Linked DNA regions of Homo sapiens: region 1 is linked to region 2. The links come from fine-mapping of genetic effects on gene expression. Tissue or cell type: whole blood. Region 2 holds a variant in brackets; the other region holds the start of a gene. All regions are shown on one strand. Distances are between the middles of the regions.

Region 1 (2,500 bases), 43 kb before region 2:
GAGTGATAGCAGAACAGCCGTCCCAGAAGGAGGATCCTGCCTTTCCCATGCTCAGCCCACCCCAGCCTGTTGCTCCCCAGCATTCTGGTAACTCAGTGTCATTGCCAACCATCTTTTTGCACCCTGAATGGAGTAATAGACTCCAAACAAGTCCTCCTTCTGAGGCCACCAGGTAAGTACATAGACACCCCCACGCTAATCTTCCTTTGAGAAAAAAGGCCCACTGCTCTGAAAAGCCAAGTGGCCCCACTGAGCAGCACTCAGAAGCCTCAATGCTCCAATGCCCCTTACTTGGGCAGCTTCTGTGGTCTACTAACAGCCCCACACAGCTCCCTCCCACTGGTCTCTCAGCTCAGGACCAGCATCTCCCCTCCTAGAGCCTCAGTCAAGTTCCCCTGGCGGGCGGAGGGCCTGGGTTAACTGGGAACAGACCCAGCAGCTCCGCTCCATGGGCGCTGCCAGGGACATTACAACATTGCTATGCTGGGTCCATGCCAGCTCCCCCAGGGATGGGAGGAGAGAGGGTGCCAGACGGCCAAGATCGGTGGGTGGGGGTGTGGGGCAAGCAGGGCCAAGCACCCAGATGGAGGGAGCAGAGCGAGGGTGGAGCTGGGGCAGGAGCACGCAATAGAATTTGGTTGCACGTTGGGGGTGATGGCTGGGCAGCAGGAACCAAGCGTTCCTTCCACCTCCAAGGCTTAACTGTGGTCATGGAGCTGGGGGGGACAGTGCCTTGTGGGGAGCAGGGGACAGGTGTGTGGTCAGCCTCCTGACTCCTCCCAGCTCCAAGGGGATTGGAGTGATGCCACTGGAGTCAGAGGGGTGGCAATCCTGTTCCAAGCGTGGAGCTCCGTCTCTGCGAGGACCCTCCCAGATTAGGACTCCCAAGCCAGAGCCAGAGGAGAATGTCTGGGAACGCAACTGGGGGATCCTAACAGCAAGGGTAATGCGGTGTCAATGATGCCAGGTCAGAGTGGAGTGAGAGGGGAGTAGCCAGGTTGACCGTTTCCTCACCCTTCATGAACCCCACTCTGGCCTTGAGGAAGGATCCTCAGTACTCCCTCAGGAAGCCACCTAGGGGCTGAGGAGCCCCACTACTCTTGCAAACCTTAATTCCTCTGTCCCCAAGCATACTGTCCCCGACCCCCACAACGCCGCCTGCTAACCCCGCGGGCTCACCTTCCCGTTGGCCGCAGTCTCTGCAGGTCTGCGCCCCCCGAGGCCTCGCAGTGGACCCGGGGCTCCTGGAGCTCGCACGGTGCCACCCGCGTCTTCTCCAGTCCGGGGACCCCGTTGCACCCGGCCCGGGTCCGTTCGGCGCCGAGAGTCCCTGGGATTCCGGGGTGGACCTGACGCTGGCGGCAGGGGCTGCTCCAGAGGTGGGGCGCCGGGAGATCCTGGGGGCCCGCGTCGAGATCGCCGTCGCCAAGCTGGGTCCCGGGTCCCGCCGCCCGCTGCTGTAGAGCCGCGGCTGGAGCGAACGCAGCCCGGCCCGCCCCCTCCGCGTCCCCTCCCAAGCCGGCCCGGCCCGCCCCTTCAGCCCCTTTGGCCGCCTTCCCACTCCCTTCTTCCGGGGAGCCGAGCCCGCCCTCCCGGCCTAGGCGGTGAGTGCGCGGCGCCCGCTCCTCCGCCCCGGCGCGCGGGGGAGACGCGGGGCGCGCCCGGGGCCCCGCCTGTGCGCCGGGAAGGGGGCGGCCTCCTCCCGCGGGTCTTGGCCGGGAGGATCGCACGCGTGGGGCGCCTGCAGGAAGTGGGAAGGGAAGAGGCTGTCTGTAAAGCCCCTGCCTGGGCTCGGGCTCGGGCTCGGCTTGGGTCGGACACCCGCGGAGCGAAGCGCAACTGGCGGACCGTGGCAGTTCAGGGCAGGGCAGAGCCCTGCACACACCCCCTCGCGCCTCCCTCCTCTTCGGCTTTAACTCTAGGAACTAAAACAGTGGGGCTCCTACTCAGCTTGGAACTAAGGTGGGCGTGAGCTGAGCAAGAGAGAAGGAAGGAAAAGCAGGGGGTGGAGGGAAAGACAAACTGAGAAATCTGGGAGAGTACGGGCGGTGGTAGGGGGAGCCGAGGCAGCGGGAGAGGGGGGCGTCTCGGTATGAAAGCGTCGCCGTGCTAGCCGGGAACTCTTTTCTCTTTTCGTGTCTGGATCTTGGTCAACGTTGGGGCTTCTGAGTCGAACCTCCCTCCATCTACCCTCCCCAAGGGGCAGGGCAGTCGGGTTGAAAAGGGGAAGCGCTGCTGTACGCCTGGCTCTGACATGGCTTGGGCAAGTCGCTGCACCTCTGGGTGCCTCCTCCCTCGCCCGCGCTCCGGAGAGAACCTCCCTGCAGTGAGGAGGGGCGGTGCAAGGTGCTCTCAGCTGGCGCCTGGAGGCAGGGTTGAGGAACCGAGGGGGCGCCGCGAGGAAAAGTGTTTCCGCCCACCTCTAACCCCTTCTCTAGCCGAGGACGGGGATTTGGGGTCTATTGTTTGGGTCCTACAGAGCTGGGCTGGGGCCTTGCCA
Region 2 (2,759 bases):
CTCTCTGGCAAGCCTCTTTTCTCATCCTCACCCTCACCCCAATCCCGTGAATGCAGAGTCTGAGCTGTTGGTTTGACACTCTTGAGTCTATTCCTGATTGTCTGGAACAGATATGGGAATTTAGCCTTAGGGGCTGATCTGATGATTCTTAGTTCTCTCTATCTCCTGAGAAGGAGTTCGTTCTGTTGGTCTTCCCTGGCCCAGGGATGCTTTGCATCCTTGGCTCCCCCAGTCTACTCCCCATGATGGATTCCAGGTGCCTGTGTCATGCAAGAGCTTGAGCTGCCCCTCTGTCTGGGGAAGGCAAGCCAGGCTGGGGTGCTCCTCTGTAAATGGCACTTTATCTTTCCCACAGGGGTCAGATCTCAGACTATTCATCAATGGCCAGCGACCCTGGTGCAGCCTGTGGGCAGCCCGCTCTCTCTGGAGTGCACTGTGGAGGGAACATCAAACCCCAACCTATACTGGTACCGACAGGCTGCAGGCAGGGGCCTCCAGCTGCTCTTCTACTCCGTTGGTATTGGCCAGATCAGCTCTGAGGTGCCCCAGAATCTCTCAGCCTCCAGACCCCAGGACCGGCAGTTCATCCTGAGTTCTAAGAAGCTCCTTCTCAGTGACTCTGGCTTCTATCTCTGTGCCTGGAGTGTCACACTGAGCTGGGTGGGGCAGACATCTGTGCAAAAACCCCACCCTCTCCTGAGCCCTAACCATACTCCCCAGGGGCCTTCACTTAGGGACTGGGTGGAGGATATTTGTAAGTAGGTTTCTGACTGCTGGCCAATGTGAAAGCAATGGAATAAAGCGAGAATTCTACAAAAGACTCTACTAAGTTCTCAGGGAGAACAAAAAATTGTATGTGTGCAGAACCTGTGATTTGCCTGCACATAGTCAAGTTCTCAATGTATGGATGTCCCGGCCCAGGCTACCATACTCCAGCCCTCAAGGTGTGCTATACCTTGCCTGATTTTCTAGTCTTCCAAATTCTTCTATGTGTGCCGTGGGGAGGGGGTTTGTGCATATATGGCTGAGAGAAAGGATATACCTGTGGCAGGAGGTGAGCTGGTGAACAAACGGGAGGATGCCAACCCAGGTTACTTAATTG[G/A]TTAATTTCATCACCTGGAGAGTCTCCTGTCATTGATCTTTCTGCTGAGACTAGAAATTATGGGGAGGCTTAGACCTGAGGCTTTGAGTCAGGCAAAGAGGCAAGATGTTCAGGAGACTGTTCTCATTCGAGGCAGAAGTGTGGTTTTGTTAGTATAGGTAACATGCACTTAGGCCAGACGTGGTAGCTCATGCCTGTAATCCCAGCACTTTGGGAGGCTGAGGCAGGAGGATCACCTGAGGTCAGGAGTTTGAGACCAGCCTGGCCAATATGGTGAAACCTGTCTCTACTAAAAGTACAAAAATTAACCGGGCGTGGTGGCAGGCGTCTGTAATACTAGCTACTTGGGAGGCTGAGGCAAGAGAATCACTTGAACCTGGGAGGTGGAGGTTGCAGTGAGCCAAGATCATGCCACTGCACTCTAGCCTGGGTGACAGAGCGAGACTCTGTCTCAAAAAAAAAAAAAATAAAAATAAGCTTGCACTTAGAAATTTTGGTGATGTTTGAGGTTTTAAAAAATGTCCTGTTGTACTATCTTGTAGCCCTTCCTTTGTAGCAAAGACAGACAGATGGTGATCCAAGAGATACGCAAGAAGAGGACCGTGTGTGTAATGGTTGAGCTCTAAAAAAGAGAAATCACTTGGATGGAAATGAAGGAGAGGAAAAGGCTGATGTGGATGGCTGGGAAGAGGTTCGATGGTTACCTTGGCAACTGAGCTTCCTTCCTCATCCCCATCCCTCCCTAGTCCTTGTTCTTAAAAAGATTTTCTTTCTAATGTCCCTTCCCCTCCACAAGGGGGCACAAGATGTCTTAAAATACTCCATTCCGGGCATCATTTAACCTAGATCAATCCAGACACGTGCATATTTCTAGTATCATTTAATCTGAAGTGGAAAATCTGAGATGTAGACACAGAGTGATCAAGAACATATGGAATAATGCCCAGGGGTCCCTACTGAACTTTAAGGATCACCTATGTATTAAGCAGCTATTATTTGCTGGACACAGTGAGTCATTTTGAGGATTAAAAAGAAAAATAAAATGTACTCGAGATGGTGTTGGGCACAGTCATAGCATGATTTAGTCAAAGCACTTGATTTTTGTAGTCTAAAAATTTGCTAGTTGTTATGAACTTGACCTAGTTATTTAATTTTACTAAGTTTCAAGTTTTTCCCCACCTATAAAACTTGCCTCATTGAATTGTTATGTGTATTAAATGAGATGGTGTTTATAAAGCCCTATTACAAGCTCTAATTTTCAACAGGTATTATTTTCCGCTCCTTAAGCTTACAAGATTATTTTCATTACAACTTACCCAAGAGGAAGACTTAGTTAAAAAATTTCAAATCATAAACTACAAGTATGTAATAAATATTAATATTTAAAATGCTAAACATGCTTGGATGGCAAAACCATGAAACTTGAACCCTATGCTGTGCCTATTCAGATGCTGATTCTGTAGGGGCTTTATACAGCTTCAGAATCCTCATTAATAGAGAAATGTCTCAGGCAATCACCACTAGTCAAGTAGAATTAGTAGAGACTTGAGGCAGATTTTTCCTTCCTGTAATATACTGCAAAAATTCTGGAAAACTTCACAAAGGACATAAAATTGTAGCTAAGTTTAGCTCTTTAGGAGGCTAATAGTTATATAAG

What was found. PIP is the estimated chance that this variant, and not a neighbour inherited with it, causes the effect.
Region 1: EPHB6 starts here. The variant in region 2 is fine-mapped to the expression of EPHB6 in whole blood (TOPMed, PIP above 0.99).

Annotation. Positions count from the first base shown.
Region 1 is chr7:142,854,065-142,856,564 of GRCh38, reverse strand. It overlaps EPHB6 (EPH receptor B6), which reads right to left and starts at 1,489. Exons shown (of 20, transcript NM_004445.6): 1 at 1,180-1,489.
Region 2 is chr7:142,810,474-142,813,232 of GRCh38, reverse strand. It overlaps TRB and TRBV30. Among named protein-coding and RNA genes, the nearest start is that of PRSS2, 41 kb to the right of the region's middle. The variant G/A (reference allele first, on the strand shown) is at 1,103.